7 linked regions of the Homo sapiens genome follow. The protein of the gene in region 5 purifies or fractionates together with the protein of the main gene of each other region. This does not show direct contact. Each region holds a gene or a part of one and is shown on either strand. Other genes may lie near its edges. The genes, in order: NSF, BDP1, USP24, BRD1, MYH6, DCAF1 and TTC4.

Region 1 (3,500 bases), on a different chromosome or scaffold from region 5:
GTTCACACCATTCTCTTGCCTCAGCCTCCCGAGTAGCCGGGACTACAGGTGCCCGCCACCATGCCCGGCTAATTTTTTGTATTTTTAGTGGAGACGGGGTTTCACCGTGTTAGCCAGGATGGTCTCGATCTCCTGACCTTGTGATCCGCCCGCCTCAGCCTCCCAAAGTGCTGGGATTACAGGCATGAGCCACCATGCCTGGCCATATTACAACTTTTAATACAATACAAAGATTTAAAAACACTTCTTCAAAATTTTCACTTTACGTGTCTGTGTCAGATGGTGATGACCTAAGGTAGATGAGTCAGTGGTTACTACAGGGCAGATGCAAACATTATCTTCCTTCCTGCTACTCTGAAGATTTAGCAGTTGACAATTAATTCTTATTCCTTTTACCATCTCTTCTCCACCAAAAGTCAGCATTTCCCTACCCCTTGATATGCTTGAAAGGAAAGAGAAAGAATACTGGCATAATGTTTATAATCTGTTTAGCTGATTTTCCTGACCTTTATGTGTCTATTCATAGCAGTGGACTGGGCTGCTCGCACCAGACCCTCCAATTCAGCACCACTGAAATTCTTGGTCTCCACGGCCAGTTCTTTAATGTCTACATCAGCAGAGAGTAACTGATGCCCTCTCATTCTTGCTGTGTGGATGTGAAGAATCTGTAGTCGGCCTTTCTCATCTGGCAAGCCTGATGAAATTAAAAATAAAATAGGCATTTTCCTAGTCTCGAAAGCACCATCAGAGGAGATTATCATTATTATTATTACTATTATTTTGAGACAGAGTCTCGCTCTGTTTCCCAGGCTGGAGTGCAGTGGTACGATCTCAGCTCACTGCAACCTCTGCCTCCTGGATTCAGGCGATTCTCCTATCTCAGCCTTCCGAGTAGCTGGAATTACAGGTGCACACCACCACACTCGGCTAAGTTTTTTGTATTTTTAGTAGAGAAGGGGTTTCACCATCTTGGCCAGGCTGGTCTCGAACAACTGGCCTCAAGTGATCCACCTGCCTCAGCCTCCCAAAGTGCTGGGATTACAGGTGTGAGCCACTGCGCCCAGCCTAGAGGAGATTATTATGATCCTAATGTTTTCCTTATAGGTACTCAAGCATGTAAACATCTACTTCTCATGATATAAACCTTTTCTAAAAAATACTACACCATATGACATTGTTCCTGTTAATGAACTCTAAATGCCTCCACTCCCCCCACCACACACCCAATCAGTGACAGATCTCCTTACCTATCTCCATTTTAACTTCCAGTCTTCCAGGTCTAAGAAGAGCCTCATCTATCAGATCTGGTCTATTGGTCATTCCTGAACACAGATGTTAAAACAAAACAACAAATGATCAGAGTTCAAAAATAAAATCAAATGTCCTTTTAGTATATGTAAGAATAGTAATTTCCCTAACAAGCTAAGGAGACTTTGCTTTACTATTTCACTACTGTATAAGCCAATGGAATATAAATGTTATGAAAACTTCCAGTATTTAAAAAGAAAATTTAAGATTCAAAGGGTAAATAATCTGTCAAAGTGACAGAGGGGCAATGTGACACGATCTCTCTGACTCCAAAGTTCCTTCTCTTTTTTACAGGCCAGTGGTTTTCAGACTTCATAAAACAGCAGGGTGTTTTTTTTTTTTTTCCCCCAGAAGTCATCTTCAGAAGCACCTCAGTACATAAAACAGCTAAAAGAGGAAGTTATAATAGTGATGTAGGATCTGAAACGCACTCCCTGGCCCTCACTGACCCTGAAAGCACCTCTGAGGACCCCCGAAGGCCTGCAAGACCCAGTTTGAAAACCACTGCATTCCATTGTTTCATGTGTATTTTTCATTTTTGGGTGAGCTATAAGCTTCAACCTACATCTTTTTCACCTGTGGGTGAGCTATAAGCTTAAACCTACAAGTGACTGAAATCCATCTTTTATTTTTCCTATTAAGCCTAGGCATTACAATAGATTCTTCAATATCACTGGATTCTAATTTGGAAACACTGGCAAAACAGTTTAATCACAACCTACACACATCTTAATTCAGAACTTATGGCTAACGTTTTTGAATGAATAGTACTTTTTTAAAAAGTAAACATACCAATGACTAGGATGTTGTTTAGCTGCTCCACGCCATCAATTTTGGACAGCAACTGGTTGACAACAGTGTCATGAACTCCCGTGCTACCAGCCATGCTCCCTCTCTGCTTGCAGATGGCATCAATTTCATCAAAGATGATGATGTGCAAACCACTGTTAGCACCAAGCTATTAGGGGAAGAAATTATATTAAAGATCATAATTTGAATGTCTTATTAAACAAACTAATCAGAAAAACAAAACAAAGCTTTCAACAGATTGACTTCACTTCATTTTGACTAATAAATATGGCAAGTGCAATTGTGGTTGTTGTCCTCTCAAAGGTGTTGGAACTAGATTCTCAGAATTCTGCAAACTGAAAACTCATTCTAGAACCTCATATTTAATAGCTATAAAATGAAAATACACATTATATACTGATAGTGTGTGTGTATAGATAGAAAGTAAGTAGTCGATCAAATAATTTATATACATTTCTTATCTCACTATTTGAAAGACCTTACATTTGTCAGATACTTTCATTAAGTCAGTCAGTGGCAACACCCTCCCATTTTCCCTGAGTTTTGGTGAGAAGACTGTCCCAGAAGCAGTAGGTTTAATGTTTGTTTCGTTATATTATGTAACTAAAGGTTAACTCCACCTACAGGTTGACTGGGAATTGGACAAATGAGTGAAGAAACTCAACATGACTCACATGTACTTATATTACATGAAAACAGATTACGCCTTCCTAACAATAAAGTGAGAACAGAGACGGTTTATAAAAAGAACATGGTTAACAGGGTGCTGTTTCTTCTGCATAATGATTTCTGCCTTAGTTTACTAGAAATAGAATCACCATTAAAAGAAATTAGTTTGTATATTTTGAATCTTTAACAGATACAAACACTTCTGAATGCTACTAATTCATTAGGTTAATTTAACACGTACCTTCTAAAATTTATATTTAAGTAATTTAGTCTCCTATCAGGGAGTAAAGTGCACTCTGGAAATTTTTTCTTTTATAAACAAAAAACACGGCCGGGTGCGGTGGCTCCTGCCTGTAATCCCAGCACTTTGGGAGGCAGAGGAGGATGGATCAACTTAGGTCAGGAGTTCGAGACCAGCCTGGCCAACATGGTGAAACCCTATCTCTACTAAAAATACAAAAATTAGCTGGGTGTGGTGGCAGGTGCCTGTAATCCCAGCTACTCTGGAGGCTGAGGCAGGAAAATCACCTGAACCCAGGAGGCAGAGGTTGCAGTGAGCCGAGACTGCACCACTGCACTCCAGCCTGGGCGACAGAGTGAGACTCCGTCTCAAAAACAAAAAATACTAGGGATTAACAAAACTGGTAAAAAATGAACATAACCTAAATATGACAACATACGGATAATAAAAATTAAATGAGCATAATGAGACT
Region 2 (3,500 bases), on a different chromosome or scaffold from region 5:
AAAGCGAATATCAAGTACTTCTAGCCTGGTTAAGTCTAGTGTCAGTGTTCCTTCAGAATCTCATCCCTTATCTACAATTAATCAAGAGGCTCCACAGCCAACTGCCACTTCAACAAAAGAGAAACAGCCATGCTCAGACAGATACCGAATATACAAAGCCCAGAAACTGAGGGAAATGTTAAAAGAAGAATTGAGAAAAGAGAAGGTAAGGGAGGAGAATCAGGATTTTGATGTTGCCTTCTATTTATGTTAGTAAGGAATCATTGGGAAGAAAAGCATTTGTAGCATTTTGATGGGGGAACAAAACCACATAACATCCCTTAGTCAATAGAACATCCCTTCTTGTTAATGGATTGATTGATACACCGTGGACTTAAATTACATTTTTCACTGATAGTAATTTTTACATTATTTATTTATGTTTTCACTGTTTTTGGTGAAGACCACAAATAAGTTTCATACGCATACACATAGATGCACATACACAAACATATTTATAAAATAAACCTTCAGTCTGATTTTTCACATAAAGATGTCCAAGTGATAAGTGATATATTTATTTGAATTAAGACAAGTATAGGCCGGGCGTGGTGGCTCATGCCTGTAATCCCAGCACTTTGGGAGGACTAGGGGGGCAGATCACTTGAGGTCAGGAGTTCAAGACCAGCCTGGCCAACATGGCAAAACCCTGTCTCTACTAAAAATACAAAAATTAGCTGGGCCTGGTGACGTGCATCTGTAATCCCAACTACTGGGGAGGCTGAGGCATGAGAATTGCTTGAACCTGGGAGGTGGAAGTTGCAGTGAGCCGAGATTGTGCCTCTGCATTCCAGCCTGGGTGATAGAGTGAAACTGTCTCCAAAAAAAAGACGAATATAGTTGAGCAGAATGAATTGGTAATGTTTTCTAAATTGACTATGGAAAATTACAAGTGGGAAAAATTTGTGTTATGCATATATTAGAGTCCATGTTCTTTTTAATCTTGAGGATTGATTTCTTTTCTAGAAGGGCAGGTAACAGCAGTAGAGCATGCTGGCCCTGGAGTTAAATACTTAGGGATTGAATCTCAGCTTCATTTCTTTACTAGCTTTGTGACCTTGGGTAATTTAATTAATCTATTTCCTCATCTGTAAAATAGACCAATAATAGTTCAGGTTGAGCATCCCTGAAATTGAAAATGCTCCAAAGTCTAAAATGTTTTGAGTGCCAAAGTGATGCTCCAGGGAAATGCTCATTGGAGCATATTGGATTTCAAATTTTCAGGTTAGAGATGCTCAGCCAGCATGTATTCTGCAAGTATTCAAAAATGTGAAAAAATCCAAAATGTGAATCATTTCTGGTCTCAAGTATTTCAGATAAGAGATGCTCAACCTCTATCTAGCTCATTAGAGGGTTGTGAAGATTAAATGAGTCAATACATGTAAAACACACTTAAACTGGTGTCTTGGGCCTTGTGCAGTGGCTCACGCCTGTAATCCCAGCACTTTGGGAGGCCGAGGTGGGCGGATCACCTGAGGTCAGGAGTTCGAGACCAGCCTGGCCAACATGGTGAAACCCCGTCTCTACTAAAAATACAAACATTATCTGGTTGTGGTGGTGCACGCCTGTAATCCCAGCTACTCAGGAGGCTGAGACAGGAGAATCGCTTGAACCTGGGAGGCAGAGGTTGCGGTGAGCCAAAATCGTGCCATTGCACTCCAGCATGAGTGACAGAGCGAGACTCCGTCTCAAAAAAAACCAACCAAACAAAAAAACTAGTGTCATGAAAATAGTAAGTGTCCAACCAGTGTCAGCTTCTGTTATGAATTATAAAATGCCTCTTAGTTTTTTTTAAATTAAGGGAAGGCATTTTGCTTGGTGCTTTATATCTGTTATCTTATGTAATTATATCAACTATGTGAAGTAGATATCACTGTTTCACACAGGAGAAAACAAGCTTTCAATTTATGTCTTCTAAAATGTAAGCCTCACAACAATTGCTTGAACCTGGAAGGCGGAGGTTGCAGTGAGCTGAAATTGTGCTACTGCATTCCAGCCTGGGCGACAGATCAAAGCCTCTAAAAATGTTTTATGGGTTGGGAATTGGGGGTGGGGGGATTAAAAAAAAGTTCTGTATTTTACAGAAACTGCTTATTTGCTTATTTAATTTATTTTGGGGAATTAAAGATTAAACATTTGCTTCAAGAATTTTACAAAATACACAGAATTTCAAGTCACTACAGGGTAAAAAAAAAGCTGTGTAAGCATAAATTCTCAGTGAGCTATTAAGATGTTTAGTTAGAAGGCATCAGTAAGCATTTTATACATTGAGCTTTATTAGTTTTATTCTTTGGTTATTTATTTAGTTTTGAGACAAGGTCTCACTGTCACCCAGGATGGAGTGCGCTAGTATAATTGCAGTTCACTGCAGCCTCAACCTCCCAGGCTCAAGTGATCCTCCCACCTCAGCCTCCCAAGTAGCTGTGGCTATAGGCATATGCCACCACATCCAGCTAATTTTTTTGTATTTTTTTGTAGAGATAGGGTCTCATTTATGTTGCCCAGGCTGGTAACTCCTGAGCTCAAGCGATCCTCCTGCCTCAGCCTCCCAAAGTGCTGGGATTAGAGAAATAAGCCACTGTGCCTGGCCACATTGAGCTTTTATCTAGTCCTAGTCACTTTAATTGTTAAAATCTAAATACTGCCTGGGTGTGTGGTTCACTCCAGTGCTTTAGGAGTGTGAGGCAGGAGGATCACTTGAGCCCAGGAATTTGAGAGCAGCCTTGGCAACGTAGGGAGACTCCATCTCTACCAAAAAAAAAAAAACCCCACAAAATTAGCCAGGTGTTAGGCAAGCATCTGTAGTCCCAGCTACTTGGGAGGCTGAGGTGGGAGGACTGCTTGAGCTCAGGAGTTCAAGGCTGCAGTGAGCTATGATTGCGCCACTGCACTTTAGCCTGGATGACAGAGCAAAACCCCATCTCAAAAGTAGATAAATAAAAACTAAAAGCTATTGAGGGTAATGTGCTACAACTTTTTAATATTCCATCTACAAAATTACATAATTGGGGTGAGAATAATATTAAAGCACTTACAGTGAACGCAACAGTGGACTGTATATTTGCATATAGTACATCTGAAATTCTTTAATATTTATAAAAGTGGATCTGTGTGTTTATGTATACAGAAACAATGGAAAAACAAATATGCTATAAATGAAAGTCAGAGGCCACCAGATCGTTCAAAAATGACTATGAGAGACTTCATATATTATCTACCAGATAATAATCCAATGACGTAAGTAAAATTTATTTCTGCTTTACTATCTCTTTTTTTTTTTTTTTTTTTTTGGAGGTGGAGTCTCGCTCTGTCACCCGGGCTGGAGTGCAGTGGTGCAATCTTGGCTCACTGCAACCTCTGCCTCCCAGGTTCAAGCGATTCTCCTGCCTCAGATTCGCGGGTAGCTGGGATTACAGATGCTCGCCACCACACCCGGCTAATTTTTGTATTTTTAGTAGAGA
Region 3 (3,500 bases), on a different chromosome or scaffold from region 5:
GACTGAGTAGACAGTTCTGAATTTAGATCCTTGTCCTGTGACACTGGCACATACTTCTTCTTTTCTGAACCTGTTTTTCCATCCAAAAAATGAGAATAAAACCTGATACTGCATAATAATCTTTTACAAATTAAAGATGTGCTTAAAGCACGTAGCACACAGTAGGTGTTCAATAAATAATGGCCAATGATTGTTTTATTAGTCCCACTCAAAGGTTATGAACCTTAACTTGTTTTTCTCTCCAGACAAAATAAGTTTATTTCAGCAACACGATTTCTTTACTGCCCACTCCCCACAACTCTGTTTATTTGTGACATTTCACACTCACAGAGCAGGTCAGTGATTGTGCCTGCCAATCATGAGTGTGTATTCATACTTGTGTTCTTAGCACTCCATGGCTCTAGCTCTATGGCCCCCTCTGTGTCGTGGCATAAAAGGTTCATGAGACAAGTGTGTAAGACGATGTAGCCCCAGTGGTACAACTAATCCAGCAGAAGTACTTCTGGACCTACTAGATACATTTTGATGTCCACGTGGATATTCCCCCTTAGAATTTTTTATATGGTTCTTACCTGGTATATTCGAGCAGGCATTTTCTCCACAAACAGTCCTTTCTTCTCGCCTTTTTTAACCAGCTTGGTAAGAATAGACAGCCGGTCATTGTTCGGCCTATGGGGCCGAGGGGATGACTGAGGTGAAATTTCTGGTGAAGATGGAGCTGACCTAAGAGATAGAATCAGAAAACTCTGTCTAGTATAAAGTGGCTATTTTTTCAGTAGTTACTAAGACTTGCCAAATTCACATAAACGGGTATTAGACTATTTGATTATTATACATGTATCGAAACATAAAACTGTACCACATAAATATATACAATCATAATGTAACAATTAAGAAATTAAAAATGCAATACTTTCTAATTAGTTGGGAGAACTGATTGACATTATAGAAGATAAAATAGTGCAGGGCAAATTTAACACAAATTTTTACTTAAGTGGCATATGAGATTTAACATTTAAGCACAAAATGAATTCTTCCTTCATATTATTGTGAGATATCTTTCCCAGCCATTAAAAAAGCAGTGAAATAAACTTATCTTAGAGCCACACACTCAAAGTCGTGTAAGAACAAAGTATTGAACCAAGTTTTCAAATTTAATAAAACACATATAGTCATATTTCTCACATGAAAAAGTAAACACTTTCCTGACCCAATATATTAAAAGGCAAATTCACTGACAATAGGACCTTTAAAAAACAACAACATTCTGACAGTGTTGGCATAGCATTATGCTTTGGACAAAAAGTGTATTCAACAAATGCTGCTAACATTAAAAAAAAAAAAAAAAAAAAGTCCAGGTATGGTGACTTATGCCTATAATCCCAGCACTTTGGGAGGCCTAGATGGGAGTATTGCTTGAGCCCAGGAGTTCCAGACCAGCCTGGGCAACATTGGGAGACCTTATCTTTACAAAAAACAGACAAACCAAATATCTGGGCCTGGTGCCCCTCGCCTGTGGTCCCAGCTATTCAAGAGGCTGAGGTGGAAGGATCGCTTCAGCCTGGGAGGTCGAGGCTGCAGTGAGCTATGATCATGCCACTGCACTCCAGCCTGGGTGACAGAGTGAGACCACACTGTCTCAAAAAAACAAAAAACAAAACACTTCAATTCTAGAATGAAATAACTTACGTGCATGTTTCTAAATATGTAACAACTTCTTGCCAAGAAAATAACCATGAAGCAATAAGGGATTTATTTTCTTTTTGGAATTCTTTTTAGAATTTCTCTCCAGCTTAGCTAATTATCTTTAAAATCTCAAATAGTATATTGTCACAGACCACATCATCACCATAGAAATCACACAGCAAATTACATGGAAGAGACACTTACAGAGAGAGATCCTCAGCTTCCTGCCGTACAACGCTGACTCGACTTTTCTTTGGTAATACTGGGGAGTTCTGATCAGACACCCTTTGGTAGAAAAGCATATAGGCATTCCAGTATCTTCGGCGCACATCAGTGTATGGGTTTGCTTTATAACAAGACATTAAGAAACACATCTGTAAATAAAAGTTTTTCTTGTCTTGACAATCTAAAACAAAGGGCCCATTATTCCAGCAAGTAGTTAACTACTCCCTAAGTTTGTAAAATGCAAAGTATAAGTAAAATGTGAGTGTCTTTAGAGTACTGCTTAGCATGGAAGTCAGGATACTTCAGTTGTGGGCCTAGCTGGATCTCTCACTTGGAAGTGATATAGGTGGGGACAAGGAATAAGGGAGCAGTATGGTAATGGAGTAAGAGAAAGAAGGTAAGTATCCTAGGGAGGTCTAAATGTAAGCAAATAGCAAGTGACATTTAAAAATATGTTCTGTGGCACAAGATGGGATAACTGGCCTCACTTAACCATTTCTGCCAAGATCGGCCAAATCCAGGCAAATTCTGACAATACTATATCCAACTCTTAAAGGTTACCACCATAAGATGCTTAACTATAATGGCATGGTATCAAAATCTAATACAGTGAATCCAATACAGCTAAAAATTTAGAAATACCACTAGAAGATTTCAAAATCAGGTTTCTGAAATGCTAAGGTCTCCACCAAATAGCTTTTTATCAAATAGCAAGTTCTGATTGGGCTGTACTTCTCCTCATACTCTTTTTTCCTGGGAGTGGGGATTGTAGAGGGAAAGACTGCTTTGCCACACTGCATAATAAATATGGTTTTAAAAACACAGGTGCTAGAAATGTCTTCTCTAATTAGTCACACCTCTACATAAGTGAAAAGGAAATCTGAAAATTTTAATGGATAACTACTTCCAAAACTATTTTTAAGGTTCAATTTCAGTATTCATTACTTTCTCTCTGATGCTCATTTCATCCTTTTAACTTACTCCCAGCTCCCCTACCTATCCCTCAAGGTTGTTGTAAGAAATTATTTAAAAAAATTTTTATAAACAGCTTGAACATTTTCACTTTGGTTATTAAAGAGCTTGCTCATGGTTCTATTGCTAGAACAGTAGTACAATAAAAATAACAAAATCTGTTGTGTTTTTATATAAAGAATACTATTAATTTTTATAGAAAACGATAAATAAAAAAACTAATGGAAAATATCCATTTGTAAATACTTACTTTGATCATAAACTTTTGGTCTATATTCTCCTCCAAAGCATTCATACTCCAGGGTCTCGTCATTTAGGTCAAATTCTTCTATAACTGTGTCATTAAATTTATACCACTTTCCTTTTCCACACCCTCTAGAACCCAGAGATCAGACAAACATTATAAGGTTAAAAAAATCAACCTCCTCATCCTTAGCATTGATCTCAATGTATTGTCTACAAATAAAGCAGGTGTTTACCATTTGAAAATATCTAAGAAATATGTAGCAACAATTATTTCAATTTCTAAAACAACTTTTCAAATTGAAGGGGTAAAACCAGTTGCACGAAGCTTTAAAACTTCAAAATGAAACACAGTCAAGAACAATGCCAAAGTG
Region 4 (3,500 bases), on a different chromosome or scaffold from region 5:
CTGCCTGAGGGTGTTCAGCAGCATTGAGGAAAACCCAGAGATCCTCACTTCAGGGGACATCAGCGCAGCAACGCTCTGCCTCGCCATGGAGAGGCCTGGCCTTGGGGGTGGGGGTGCGGGGCTCGGCCTCCCTCCTTGAGCCTCCTTTTCTGAGCAGTTTGGAGTCCGGGGTCCTTGCATCTTGTAGTCCAGCAGTCTTTGCCTTCACACCCTCGGTCCTTTGAAAAGCTATGACAGTACCCTGAGGTGGGCAGGTGGGAACCCGGGGACAGAGGCGTTGGGGGAGAGGAGGGTCTCAGGGCTGTGAAGCATGTGCCAGAAACTGATGGCCACGGCTGTCCTGAGGCTGGCAGGGCGCGCGTGTCCTGCAGCTGTGGAGGATGACAGGTGTTGGGGGCCCACTCAGGCCAACTCCCTCGTTGACTTCCTCTCCCCTTTGAGGTAGGGTCAGGGTGCCCCGGCACTGTGACGAGCAGGCCTCATGCGGCCAGGCCTGGGGGACATGGTGAGGACAGGGCTGAGGGCAGACCCAGGTGGCCTACTCTCCTGCGACCATCTGTGTCATGGCCTTTGCAGGGCTCTGATTTTCTTCTGATCACCCTGGTGTGGATGTTGGCTGGGTTGAGGCTGGCGGCCTGTGCTGTCTGGCGCACTCTTCTGTCCACTGAGAAGGGAGCAGGTGCTATCAATGGAAATGGGACCCTGGCTGTGGGGAAACGTGTGTCGGGATGGAGGCGCTGTGCAGGGCAGGGCAGCAGGTCGGCTGTGTGCCAGGCCCCCGTCATGCTCTGTCCAAGCCAGGATGGGCCCAGCATGTGGTTTTCTGTGCACCTGGTTTCTTTCCAGCCGCTCCCTCCATTCCCAGCTGTCCTGGAGGTGGGTCCTCAAGGGTCCCCCATTCTGTCCTGGCCCCGCCTTTGTGGGCCTTTCTGGTTCTGTGAAGGCCCCCCCCGCCGCCAGCTTGCGGAGGCCTCTGTCCTCTCTGGAGGGTGGAACCTGTGCACCGGGGCCAGCCCCCTGCTCACCTTGGCCTGGCGGTCCCCTCTGTCCCCTCCATCCCCTCTGTCTCCTCTGTCCCCTCTGTCCCGGTGCTGTCCTGGGGCTCTCTAGTGAGGGTGGTCTGTTGTCCTCCCCAGGATGGGCCTGCAGGACCCCTGACGTGGATGCCTCTTGGGGTCTCACCTGCATGGTATCTGAGGCCTTTTGCAGAAGGAGCCTCTGGGTTTGACTGACGGAAGTGTTCACTGTTCTCAGAGAGAAAATGATGAGGAGATGAAGGCTGCCAAAGAGAAGCTGAAGTACTGGCAGCGGCTGCGGCACGACCTGGAGCGCGCTCGCCTGCTGATCGAGCTGCTGCGCAAGCGGGAGAAGCTCAAGCGTGAGCAGGTGGGGCTGGGCCTGTCCCGCGTGGAGTGCACCACTGGCCACGGGGCGTGGGTGGGACGCTGGCAGCTCCTGCAGAGGGTGGGCTGCACCCGGTGGGTCCTGGCCCACAGCAGTGCCTTGCTCAGCCCAGGCTGGGTGCCTGGCTGCCATGGGTTGCAGAGCCCTAAGTGGAGGCTGCGTTGTCCTATGCCTGGACGGAAGCACAGGAGCCTGTGGGGGCTGCTTGTGGCTGTGGGGCGCGTGGTGGGGCTGAGACGCATGTGCGGCTCCCTAAAGCTGAGGCTCTGCTGGGCCCCCCCAGGTGAAGGTGGAGCAGGTCGCCATGGAGCTGCGGCTGACCCCGCTGACGGTGCTGCTGCGCTCAGTGCTGGACCAGCTGCAAGACAAGGACCCCGCCAGGATATTTGCGCAGCCCGTGAGTCTGAAGGAGGTGGGTGTTTGCGGCGCTCGTCTGTCCTGCCGCATGTGTGACTGTGGATTTGTGCTGCCGTTTGACCGGGAAACGTGTGATTGGCTAGAGTACATCCCTTGTGTTCTTAATTCTCGTTTTTATTTAACGTATTTGTTTTTAAATTATAAAAGTGATACATTTCATTGTAAAATACTGAAAGTGCAGTGGGCAAGAGGCCCTGTGCAGACAGTACCCTGGGCTGTGGCAGCATCCGCCCGGCACCCTCCAGCGTGCTTTAGCTGAAGGAGCTGGGGTCGGGAAGGTCCCTGCAGTACTTGGGTCTTATGTCTGTACCGTCTGCGTGTCTGTGTGTGGCTCTCAGATAGGATGGGCTTGTGGGTTATATGGAATAATAAATATAGAGTCAACTAATATCCTGTTTTAGTTTGTAAATGATTCTTTTTCCTCCCTAAAATTAGGTACCAGATTATTTGGATCACATTAAACATCCCATGGACTTTGCCACAATGAGGAAACGGTTAGAAGCTCAAGGGTATAAAAACCTCCATGAGTTTGAGGAGGATTTTGATCTCATTATAGATAACTGCATGAAGTACAATGCCAGGGACACCGTGTTCTATAGAGCCGCGGTGAGGCTGCGCGATCAGGGAGGTGTTGTTCTGAGGCAGGCCCGGCGCGAGGTGGACAGCATCGGCTTGGAAGAGGCCTCGGGGATGCACCTGCCTGAGCGGCCTGCTGCGGCACCGCGGCGGCCTTTCTCCTGGGAAGACGGTAAGAACTGGCGCCGTGTCCGGAGGAGGTGGAAGACGCTCTTTCTAGCAGACTCTGTCCTGCTCTGTGTTGCCAGCTCCCTATCAGCATGGTCCGGGAGCCACTAGCATGCAACCGCATACATCATTTACATTTTCTAGTAGCCTCACTGAAAAATGGAAAAGAAGCAGGTGGAATTTACTTTAATAATATGTCTTATTTTACTCAGTGTATGGAAGAGTTGATTTCAACATGGGATCGGTAAACGTTACTGAGGATATATAAGCTTTTCACCTTCTTTGCCATCTGATGTGTATTTTACGCTCAGCACCTGTCACTTCAGACTGGCTGCGTTTTGGGTGCCCACCAAGAGGACTGTGTGGCTGTGGCTCCCTATGGGGTGGCCGGTCTCGACGATGCAGACCCAGAAAGCAGCTTAGTTGGGGGTTTTCATCCAGAGTGGGCCTCGGCTAACTTCTGAGGGTGGCGTGAAGCCGGAGGATCTCTGGCTTTGCCTCCAGCCCTTTAACTTCGTGGTTTGCGCATGTTGTAGAAAGGGCTCTGGGAGTGTGTCCACGGCCCACCTGGACTCCAGCCTGGGCTTGTGCTTCTTGGTTGCCCAGGCACGTGTTGCAGCCATGTGTAGTCACCTGCACCCTTCTCTAGACTGGTCCTCGGAAACCGGGGCTGTCCCCTGCACCCTGCTTGTTAGTCGCACCTCTGGGATTGTCTGTCGAAGGGTGTGTCCTGCCCACATGGGTTGTCAAAGCACATAGAGCTCCAGCACCTCAGCTCCAGCTCTGAGCCACAAACTGAGCAGAAATCACGGTGTGTTTGGCTTATTTGTCTAAAGGTCCCATATCCCTGATTTCTTGGCCTACCCTTTCTCTTGATGAATCACTGACCCGTGCTAGGTCGCTTCTTCTGGGATGAGGCCTGGCCCTCTTCCTCT
Region 5 (3,500 bases):
CTCCCGCTTGAAGGTCTCTAGGTGCTCCAGGGACTCCTCGTAGGCGTTCTTGAGCTTGAAGAGCTCTGTGCTGAGGGAGCGAGCCTCCTTCTGTGAGGACTCCAGCTCAGACTGCGACTCCTCATACTTCTGCTTCCACTCGGCCAGGATCTGCCCGGGGACAAGGCTCACTCTTCAGCCCCCCAGCCTTAGCTCCCCAGCCCTCCTGCTTCCCAGTGCCCCAGCCCCCAGCCTCAGCCGCATGTCCAAGATCTGTCCCTGGTCCCGAGCCTGGGCTTAGCCCTCCTCCTCCACCTCCAAGGAGGTTGCCTTTGGCCTCTCACTGAACCCCTCATGCCCCCTTGCCCTGCATGCTGGCTGCGGCCCCCGCCCATGGTCCACCTTGTCAAAGTTTCTCTGCTTCTTGTCCAGGGCTGCAGCAGCAGCATTGGAGCGCTCTACGTCCACCATCAAGTCCTCTATCTCATTCTGTAGCCGGTGCTTGGTCTTCTCCAGTGAGGAGCACTTGGCATTAACAGCCTCCACGGCCTCCTCGGCATCCTGCAGCCGCTGGGCCAGCTTCTTTCTGCCCAGGTGAGGGTGGAGGGTGTGTGTGTGACTCTACTGGGCAACACTGGAGCCTTGGGTGGACCTCCTTCCACCCCCTCCCTATATCTCCTTGAGACACCGTAAGTCCAGCCTAGCAGGAGCTGAGCCTGCTCATGCCTGGAACAGAGTCCGCCAGCACGGGCTGCCCAGGCGTCCTCCCTACCTGCAGTGGCATCTGGGTGTCAGTGCCCCCTGCCCTCACCCCCCACACAGGCTGATCGACGGTAGCTCCTCTGACCAACAAGCTTTTTGCTCGTCTTATACGTGAGCATCAGGTATAACCCGGGCCAAAAGCTCGCCCGTCACAGGAAGTGGGTCAGGGCCAGCCAGAGTTCACAGAGCAAAGAGTTCAGGCTTTCTTCCAAGCACTTCTGTTGCCCTCCGAGTTCCTCCTGTCTCTTCCACTTCCGTCTCATGACCACTTTGCCTGTCCCCACCCCAGGTCCTCTCGCCCCTTCCTCTCTGAGAGTCAGGTTAAGGGGGTATCTGGAGCTCACTTGGCCTCTTCGAGCTCCTCAGTCCGCTGAATGGCGTCCGTCTCATACTTGGTCCTCCACTGGGCCACCTCCGAGTTGGCCTTGGACAGGACGCGCTGCAGCTCGGCCTTGGCCTCTGTCTCCTCCTCGTACTGCTCCCGCAGCAGGTCGCAGTCATGCCGGGCCGACTGCAGTGCATGGGCCAGGGCGTTCTTCGCCTGGGGAGGGGGGGGGGCACCAGGAGGTGGGAGGGACTCCCTGTGCCCCATTCTCTAGATTCTCTTCTTATGTAGTACTTCAACCAAGCCCAGCCTTATTCACCATGTGGGCTGATGTGGCACCTCACTGTTTGAGGAGTTTCCCAGTCTGCTCACCCCATCCCCTTACGAATAAGAAAAGAGGCATTAAATGACGCTTAGCTGCAGGGCAGAACCTAGACTGGAGGGTCTTTCCCTTGCAGAGGACTCTTTCCAGCTCCAGGCTCCATTTCTGGCACTGAGATGAATTGCCCCAGGGCTGCCATCAAGCCTGCCCACCCTCCCCACTGGGCCTCACCTTGCCCTCCTCCTCCAGCTGCCTTTTGAGGTCCTCCATTTGCTGGGTATAAGAGAGCTTCCCCCGGGTCAGCTGCGAGATTAGCGCCTCCTTTTCCTCTAGCTGCCGGGCCAACTCTCCTGGAGGTGAAATGAGGGGCTTGTGGGCCATTTCACAAGTCATGTCCTGCCCTAGGCAGGGGGTTGGTTAGGGGCACCCACCATTCTCGGTCTGCAGCTTGGCTCGCTGGGTGGTGAAATCATTGAGGGAGCGTTGGGCCTCTTCTAGCTTCACGCGGTACTCATTGGCCTGGTCCTCCAGCGTCCGAGACACTTTCTCCAGGTTTGCCTTCAGGAAGCAAGACAGGAAGGGTGAGTGTGGGAGGGGCTGAGTCGACCAGAGGAAGGAAGAGAGGGTCAGAGATGGGGAATGCCAGAGGGCAGGAGGGGGACACAGAAGGTGTGGGAGGGCGCAGTCTGAAGAGAGACTTGAATTAAAGAAAGGAGGAACATGAAGAGATAGAGAGGGTGAGGAGAGCCAGAGAGGGGCAGGGGAGACAGGAAGAGAGACCAAAGGGTGATGAAGAGAATGAGAATGACAAGGGAGATGGCAGACAGAGAGAGAAGGCATGGGGGAGGCTCCGCTGTGCAGGGGAGAGGGCGAGGGGAGGCCGAGCAGAGCCTGCCTTGGCCTTGATGATCTGCTCCATGTTGGAGGTGACGTCATCCAGCTCCAGCTTGAACTCGCTCTTCTCCTTCTCCAGCTTCTGCTTCACCCGCTGCAGGTTGTCGATCTGCTCGCCCAGCTCGGCCACGCTGTCGGCGTGCTTCTTGCGCAGGGCCGCGGCAGTGGCCTCGTGCTGCAGCGTGGCCTCCTCCAGGTCCCGCCGCATCTTCTGGAACTCGGCCTCGCGCTTCTTGTTCATCTCGATCTGCACGGACGTGGCCCCGCCGGCCTCTTCCAGCCGCTCGCTGATCTCCTCCAGCTCCCGAGACAGGTCTGAGCGCAGCTTCTCCACCTTAGCCCTGGCGGTGCGCTCGGCCTCCAGCTCCTCCTCCAGCTCCTCGATGCGTGCCTGGGTCAGACACAAAGGGCTCAGACCCACCGCCTGGACCCCTCCACTGGAATCCCCCCGGCTCTGAAAAGCTACCAGGAACTTAGGTTCCTCTCAAGCAGTGGTTCTCAACTAGGGGCAATTTTGTGCCCCAGGGAACAGTTGGCAATGTCTGATTGTCATGTCTTGGTGGGGCTTGCTACTGGCATCTAGAGGGTAGGGGCCAGGGATGCTACTAAACATCCTATAATGCATAGGCCATCAATAGGAATTTGGCTGAAGCTCCCAAGGGCATCTCAGACCCAGTGTGAGCATCTGCAGCCCCAAATCCTGAGAACCTGTGGTTGAAGGGGGATCCTGGTATCCTGTGAGATCAAGAAGTTCAGAGTCCCCAGATTCACTAGGCTCTGTTGCGCTATTCATAAGACGGGAAAATGAGTGCTTGTATTTTACAAATATTTGTGACAACATGCCTCGAAACAATCAGATACCTTTGCAATTCTCCAAGTTAACCACAAAGTCCAATCAACCATATTCCTTGCTCTCCCAGGCTTGCTGTGTTTATGCCCAGGGCTGGGTTTCAACATGATTGCTCCCTTCCAGGCCAGGAAAGTGCTAGCAGGCTACTCTCCTCTTCACCTCATCTCCTTATCCTCTTTAAGTGCCCTTACCTCATTTTTTGGGCCTTAGCCTTGGTCTTGACTAAATTGGGAGAATATCGTATCTACCATTTTGATCTGTTGTCTGGCTAGCCAGGAGCAAAACGGGGGTTCAGTGGAAATCCCTTCACCTCGGGTTATGGACAGCTTTAATGGACTGTTCATGGATGGGTCCTACAAGCAGCAGAG
Region 6 (3,500 bases), on a different chromosome or scaffold from region 5:
CCAAAGCCCAGCCATAAAAAAACAGCTGGACAGACATCTTCCTTCCCCACCTACGCTGGACAGTATAATCACAGAGTATCTTAGAGAACAACATGCTCGCTGCAAGAATCCAGTTGCCACCTGCCCACCTTTCTCCCTCTTTACTCCTCACCAATGTCCTGAGCCAAAACAGAGGCGGCAAGCGCCAATAAACTTTACGTCAAGGCTAAACCGCAGGGCATCATTTCCAAAGTATGGAGGGGTGGATGGCGGATGCTTTGATAGGCACCTTATCTTTAGCAGGTAAGAAGAGGCCCCTTCTTACTCCCTGGGAATTGGAATGATTCTTTTATTTAAATCAAACTGGGCAGTATCAGCATAGTTGTCCTGAAATACCACTGATTGTTACTTTGTGTAATACTTGAACAATGTAATTGTACCACCTTTTGTCAACCATGGGTTCCTTGTGTGATTGTTGGCAGTATATTGATATAATCGTTTGTGTTCTCATCTCAACTAGTATGTTTTCTAGAACCCACACCCCCTCATTACTACTGTCCATAAGGAGGCTCCCAAACTTGTGCTGGTGCAAGTTGCTTCCTGTTCTGATTCTTGACAAATCTTACATAAAGGTTACGGGATCACAGGTTTTAAACATGGGAATTTTTTTTTTTTTTGGAGACGGAGTCTCTCTATCGCCCAGGCTGGAGTACAGTGGTGCTATCTTGGCTCACTGCAACCTCTGCCTCCTAGGTTCGAGTGATTCTCCTGCCTCAGCCTCCTGAGTAGCTGGGATTACAGGCAGGCACCACCATATCTAGCTAATTTTTGCATTTTTAGTAGAGATGGGGTTTTACCATGTTGGCCAGGCTGGTCTTGAATTCCTGACCTCAATTGATACCCCCCCTTCGGCCTCCCAAAGTGCTAGGATTATAGGCATGAGCCACTGTGTCTGGCCTAAACATGGGAATTTTTGTTATTTAAATTTGTAAGTGGAAATCTTTTTCTTATTTAAAATAAAAAGCACTGAAGGTCACTGTGATTTTGGAAGAAGCCATTTGAAACATTAATGTTCTGTGCTTTTTCTTCTATCCTAGCAGTTTGCTTTTTCTGAGTCCCTGCACATTCTTTGCCTGTGATTCTCTCTTTTTTTTGCTTAGATTCCGTCCTATTTCAGTGTTCCGGGAAGCCAATGAAGATGAGAGTGGCTTCACCTGCTGTGCATTCTCAGCACGGGAGCGGTTCCTGATGCTTGGCACCTGCACAGGGCAGCTGAAGCTCTATAATGTGTTTAGTGGACAGGAGGAGGCCAGCTATAACTGTCACAACTCAGCCATCACACATCTTGAACCTTCCAGGGTAAGGGTTCCTTCCTAGGATGCTCTCAGTCATTCTTCCAAGATGAATTGGTGAACTAGAGTAAAGGAGGCTTACCCTTTATTGAGCTCTCTCTTTTAAATGAGTCCTCAACTGGAAAGTCTAGTTGAGGTTAATTCATATTTCAGATGGAGACTGAGGAATATGGCAAAGTTAGTAGGAAGAAAGGAACCATCTTTGACATCTTCTCATTTTCCCCCCTCCCTTTTATCTATTCTATTTTTGTGGCTAGTTCAGTAGGATTTAATATTCTCTTAAGTTTGGTTATTTTATAGGACACTATAGGTGTATGTATTCAAATCCTAGTGGCTTCTGACCATTTCTTGGTTTCTGGGGATTATAAAATTGTCTCTTTAATTCAACAACATTTTTATGCAAATCTTTAAAAATGCTAATGGCAGGTAGTGACATCTGCATGTATGTAAATACGTGGTTACCCACCTTGCGCCTTTTTCTTTTAGGATGGGTCCTTGCTGCTGACATCTGCTACTTGGAGCCAGCCTTTGTCTGCACTTTGGGGAATGAAGTCAGTATTTGATATGAAGTATGTATCTGCTTTTGGAACCTAGTCTGTGCTTTATTTACCTAGTTTATACCCCCCTTCATTTGGTTCTTAGACTGGAAGCCTTTTGGGGAAAGAGGATGCTGTCGGTTATTGTTAACTTCTCTCTTCCTCATCTAAGACTCATGTTTAATAAGACTTTATCTTTCTTAATTCCTAGATACTTTTATGAGGTATATACATTCTCATTATGCAGCAGACCCCGACCCAGAATCTATGTATTTTCCCATGTTCACATAGGACATTGCAGTCTTTGCTGTGTCTCCTCTCCTCTCCTCTCCCCTCCCCTCCCCCCTCACCTCCCCTCCTTTTCTCTCTCCTCTCTTCTCCTCTCCTTTCCTTTCCTTTCCTTTTTTTTTTCTTTTTTTTATTTTTTGTGAGACAGAGTCTCGTTCTGTCGCCCAGGCTGGAGTGCAGTGGCGCGATCTCAGCCTACTGCAAGCTCCGCCTCCCGGGTTCACACCGTTCTCCTGCCTTAGCCTCCCGAGCAGCTGGGACTAGAGGCGCCCGCCACCACACCTGGCTAATATTTTATATTTTTAGTAGAGACAGCGTTTCACTGTGTTAGCCAGGATGGTGTTGATCTCCTGACCTTGTGATCCGCTGGCCTTGGCCTCCCAAAGTGCTGGGATTACAGGCCTGAGCCACCGCACCTGGCCTTTTCTTTTCTTTCCTTCTTTAGACGGGGTCTCATTCTGTCACTTAGGTTGGAGTGCGGTGGCACAAACATGACCTACTGCAACCTCCACCTCCCAGGCTCAAGTGATCCTCTCATCTCAGCCTGCTGAGTAGCTGGGACCACAGGCATATGCCACCACGCCTGGCTAATTTTTTGCATTTTTGATAGAGATAGGGTTTCGACATGTTGCCCAGGGTGGTCTCGAACTCCTGAGCTTAGACAATCCACCTGCCTCAGCCTCTCAAAGTGCTGGGATTGTAGGAGTGAGCTACCATGCCTGGCCCCTTTGCTGCGTGTTTCAAAGGCACATGTGCCCTGTTTGTCATTTCTCTAAGGAATTCCCATTCATTATTTTGTATCTGCTTGGTTAAGGTGATAGAAGGAATTTTCTTTGTAATCTAAGTGTATGATTGTTTCCTCTTTGGGAGTCCAGGATCTTTAGGTGAGTGTGATTGTGCAAGAGGCTGGGGGTCACCTGTGTTTCAGTTGGTTGCAGGAATATGTCCTGAAGATCTGTCACTTCAGTGCTCCTGTTGTTTGTCCATAGGCATTCCTTCACAGAAGATCACTATGTTGAGTTCAGTAAGCACTCCCAGGATCGGGTCATCGGCACAAAAGGAGACATTGCCCACGTAAGTACTTAAGAACCACTGTTTTCAAGCTGATCATACCCATTTGTTCATACTGAAATCTTCTTGATAGAATGTGAGGACCTAAGTCCTTTGGGCAACTAGAAATCAGTGATATTCCTTCTAGTTAGAATCTAAAAGTATGATAATATAGTTCTGAGCTGTATGGGAAAAATGTATAAGGGCTAAATGTGACATTGAGAAAGATGTCATTAGCACCACAGATATTTTTGAATTCTTAGTAAGTTTTAGATTAGAAATGAAACCCCTGCCT
Region 7 (3,500 bases), on a different chromosome or scaffold from region 5:
GAAGAAAGTCATTGTTACAAATATAGAAAGGGAGAAAAAATCCTGTGGATGTTGAATTAAGAGTTGGAGATACCAATGAGACTTCATGGTCTCTCTCTCTCTCTCTCCTCTCTCCTCTCTTCTCTCTCCTCTCCTCTTCTCTCTCTCTCTCTCTCTCTCTCTCTCTCTCTCTCTCTCTCTCTCTCCTTTCTTTCTTTCTCTCTCTTTCTCCCCCAAGCTGTGGCACTGAGAAGGCATTGAGGCAGTAAGCTTGCCTCTCTACCCCCATTGTATTAATCGATACACTTATACACTTATTGCACAGAGATCTCGGCTTCTAAATACCATTCTTCACTAGAAAGAACCAGGGCTTCTTGGGAAAAAATAGCTAATTCCAGAGCTGGGGCAAGGAAAGCGCAATCTGAACCTAGAACATCCTATGTAAGAAAGCAACCACTTAAAAAATAGACACAAGTCAAAAGGACACAGAAACAAATTTGAAGAGATTCCCACTGGCCAAATCTGGGATATTCTGAGCATAAAAGAAACAATCATAGTAACAGATTAAAACTCATTAAATGAAACAGGAAACTATAAATCCACCAATATAAATAAATATGTTGAATATCTGACGAGCAATGGGATATTTACACCATTTCAAAGCATCTCCCTATAAAACACTTATTAATCATAAAGAAAAAGTAACTGTACAGTGGAGAAGGCTGGCAGACCCCACCTCAATCAGGTGATCAGAGTGAACATCATGAGTAATGGGACAAATGGAGATTATGTACCATCTGATAGGTGCAATGAGAATACAGCATCACTTCTGTAATATTCCAGCCAAATATGCATAATCCAGGCCGGGCATGGTGGCTCACACCTGTAATCCTAGCACTCTGGGAGGCCAAATCGGGCAGATCATTTGAGGTCAGGAGTTTGAGACCAGCCTGGCCAACACGGCAAAACCCCATCTCTATTAAAAATACAAAAAATTAGCTGGGCGTGGTATCTGAGTAGCTGTAATCCCAGCTACTCAGGAGGCTGAGGCAGGAGAATCGCTTGGACCTTGGAGGCAGAGGCTGCAGTGAGCCGAGATCACACCATTGCACTTCAGCCTGGGCAACAAGAGCAAAACTCCATCTCAAAACAAACAAACAAGTATGTATAATCCAAATCTAGTCAGAAGGAAACATGAGACAAACCCATACTGACAGACATTCTACAAAATAAGTGGTCTGTAATCTTCAAAGTGTCCTGCAGTTGAGTCACAGGATCACAAAAATATGAATAAAAATTTTTTAAGTAAAAAAAAAAAGTGGAGGAAAGACTGAGGAGCTCTTCCATACTGAAGGAGACTAAGGGGACATGATCACTAAATACAGTATGTGATTCTGAACAAAACCCTTTTGCTATAAAGAATTTGTGAAACCTGAATGGAGTCTGAGGGTTAGATGGTAACAGTGAATTAATGTAAATTTCCTGCTTTGATAGCTATATGGGTATTATAAAGAAAAATGTCCTTTTGTGTAGGAAATACACAGTAAAGTATTCAGGGGTAATGGGACATCAGCTGGCATCCTACTCTCAAATGTTAGAAAAAGGTAATTCTTTATACTGGATATTGTGATTTTTTATTTAAAAAATCCCAACAATGGAATGTTATTCAGCCTTAAAAAGGAAAGAAATTCTGGCTGGGCACGGTAGCTCACACCTGTAATCCCAGCACTTCTGGAGGCCAAGGAGGGCGGATCACTTGAGGCCAGGAGTTCAAGACCAGCCTGGCCAACATAGCAAAACCCCATCTCTACTAAAAATACAAACAAAATTAGCCAGGCTTGGTGGCACATGCCTGTAATCCCAGCTACCTGGGAACCGGAGGCATGAAAATCACTTGAACCAAGAGGCAAGGTTGCAACGATCTGAGATTGCACCACAGCACTCCAGCCTAGGTGACAGAGCGAGATTCTGTCTCAAAAAATAAAAATAAATAAAAAGGAAAACAATTCTGGTTGGGCATGGTGGCTCACACCTATAATCCCAGCACTTTGAAAGGCGGAGGTGAGTGGATCACTTGAGGTCAGGAGTTCGAGACCAGCCTGGCCAACATGGTGAAACCCCATCTCTACTAAAAATACAAAACTTAGCTGGGTGTGGTGGCACGCGTCTATAATCCCAGCTACTCAGGAGGCTGAGGCAGGAGAATCGCTTGAACCTGGGAGGCAGAGGTTGCAGTGAGCCAAGATCGCACCACTGCACTCCAGCCTGGGTGAAACAGCGAGACTCCGTCTCAAAAATTTAAAAAAAAAAGGAAATTCTGACACATGATACAATATGTAATGAACCTTGAAGACATTATGCTAAGTGAAATAAGCCAGACATAAAAGGACAAATACTGTATGATTCCACTTATATGAAGTACTTAGAGTTTCAATTTGGGAAGATGAAAAAGTTTTGGAGATGGCTGGTGGTGATAGTTGCACAACAATGTGAATGTACTTAATGCCACTGACCTATATACCTAAAAATGGTTAAAATGGTAAATATTATGTCATGTATATTTTACTATAATTTTCAAAAAAATAAAGCAGACTGCTTCCCCCGCCGCAAAAAAAAAAAAAAAAAAAAAAAAAATTAATTCCATAGAGGAACGAAATAAAACTTCTCTTACCTCCAAATTATCAGGGCAATATTTTTGCTCTAGGTCCCAAGAGGGTGTTTCACCAAACATCACCATTAGATGATCAATAAACCTAAGGATAAAACATGTACTTTCTGGGTATCAATAACTCATGATCTATTTTCCCACATCGGTCCCCAGACACTAATTCAAAGTTATCTAGAATGTATAAAACATGAAATGCAGGCTTAACCCATTTGACAGCAGTACCCCAAATGTGTATATGTATCACTTGTCCTATTATGACATAATTTTATTTTATTTTATTTTATTTTTTTTTTTTGAGACAGGGTCTCGCTCTGTCACCCTGGCTAGAGTACAGTGGCATGATAACAGCTCACTGTAGCCTCGACTTCCGGGCTTAAGCAATTCCTCTACCTTAGCCTCCTGCATAGCTGAGACTACAGGCACATGCCACCATGCCTGGCTAATTTTTTTCTTTTTTTTGTAGAGATGGGGGTCTCCCTATATTGCCCAGGCTGGTCTCAAACTCCTGGGCTCAAATTATCCTCCTGCCTCAGCCTCCCAAAGTTATTGGGATTACAGGTGTGAGCCCTGCACCTGACTGACAGGATTTTCTTTTTTTCTTTTCTTTTCTTTTTTTTTTTGAGACAAAGTCTTGCTCTGTCACCAAGGCTGGAGTGTGGAGTACAGTGGAACAATCTCTGCTCACTGCAACCTTCACCTTCTGGGTTCAAGTGATTCTCGTGCCCCAGGCTCCCAGACAGCTGGGACTACAGGCATGCACCACCATGCCCGGCTAATTTTTTATATTTTTATTAGGCACGGGATTTTGCCATGTTTGCCAGGCTGGTCTTGAACTCCTGGCCTCTAGTGATCC

What was found.
Region 1: the proteins of MYH6 (region 5) and NSF purify together in Homo sapiens (affinity purification with mass spectrometry, with the first as the bait; one large-scale study listed by BioGRID). This does not show direct contact.
Region 2: the proteins of MYH6 (region 5) and BDP1 purify together in Homo sapiens (affinity purification with mass spectrometry; one large-scale study listed by BioGRID and IntAct). This does not show direct contact.
Region 3: the proteins of MYH6 (region 5) and USP24 purify together in Homo sapiens (affinity purification with mass spectrometry; one large-scale study listed by BioGRID and IntAct). This does not show direct contact.
Region 4: the proteins of MYH6 (region 5) and BRD1 purify together in Homo sapiens (affinity purification with mass spectrometry; one large-scale study listed by BioGRID and IntAct). This does not show direct contact.
Region 6: the proteins of MYH6 (region 5) and DCAF1 purify together in Homo sapiens (affinity purification with mass spectrometry; one large-scale study listed by BioGRID and IntAct). This does not show direct contact.
Region 7: the proteins of MYH6 (region 5) and TTC4 purify together in Homo sapiens (co-immunoprecipitation; one large-scale study listed by IntAct). This does not show direct contact.

Annotation. Positions count from the first base shown.
Region 1 is NC_000017.11:46,691,669-46,695,168, reverse strand, and holds part of NSF (vesicle-fusing ATPase), read right to left. Parts: intron 2,267-3,500; coding exon 2,101-2,266; intron 1,323-2,100; coding exon 1,248-1,322; intron 695-1,247; coding exon 507-694; intron 1-506.
Region 2 is NC_000005.10:71,458,651-71,462,150, forward strand, and holds part of BDP1 (transcription factor TFIIIB component B'' homolog), read left to right. Parts: coding exon 1-205; intron 206-3,166; coding exon 3,167-3,276; intron 3,277-3,500. UniProt on the Homo sapiens protein: General activator of RNA polymerase III transcription. Requires for transcription from all three types of polymerase III promoters. Requires for transcription of genes with internal promoter elements and with promoter elements upstream of the initiation site.
Region 3 is NC_000001.11:55,093,365-55,096,864, forward strand, and holds part of USP24 (ubiquitin carboxyl-terminal hydrolase 24), read right to left. Parts: intron 3,259-3,500; coding exon 3,134-3,258; intron 2,033-3,133; coding exon 1,891-2,032; intron 724-1,890; coding exon 573-723; intron 1-572. UniProt on the Homo sapiens protein: Ubiquitin-specific protease that regulates cell survival in various contexts through modulating the protein stability of some of its substrates including DDB2, MCL1 or TP53.
Region 4 is NC_000022.11:49,796,874-49,800,373, reverse strand, and holds part of BRD1 (bromodomain-containing protein 1), read left to right. Parts: intron 1-1,254; coding exon 1,255-1,386; intron 1,387-1,687; coding exon 1,688-1,816; intron 1,817-2,256; coding exon 2,257-2,569; intron 2,570-3,500. UniProt on the Homo sapiens protein: Scaffold subunit of various histone acetyltransferase (HAT) complexes, such as the MOZ/MORF and HBO1 complexes, that acts as a regulator of hematopoiesis.
Region 5 is NC_000014.9:23,387,774-23,391,273, forward strand, and holds part of MYH6 (myosin-6), read right to left. Parts: intron 2,674-3,500; coding exon 2,284-2,673; intron 1,947-2,283; coding exon 1,820-1,946; intron 1,739-1,819; coding exon 1,620-1,738; intron 1,283-1,619; coding exon 1,086-1,282; intron 894-1,085; exon of another isoform or gene 823-893; intron 566-822; coding exon 382-565; intron 151-381; coding exon 1-150. UniProt on the Homo sapiens protein: Muscle contraction.
Region 6 is NC_000003.12:51,416,516-51,420,015, reverse strand, and holds part of DCAF1 (DDB1- and CUL4-associated factor 1), read left to right. Parts: coding exon 1-282; intron 283-1,139; coding exon 1,140-1,338; intron 1,339-1,817; coding exon 1,818-1,900; intron 1,901-3,144; coding exon 3,145-3,229; intron 3,230-3,500. UniProt on the Homo sapiens protein: Acts both as a substrate recognition component of E3 ubiquitin-protein ligase complexes and as an atypical serine/threonine-protein kinase, playing key roles in various processes such as cell cycle, telomerase regulation and histone modification.
Region 7 is NC_000001.11:54,732,861-54,736,360, reverse strand, and holds part of TTC4 (tetratricopeptide repeat protein 4), read right to left. Parts: intron 2,733-3,500; coding exon 2,651-2,732; intron 1-2,650.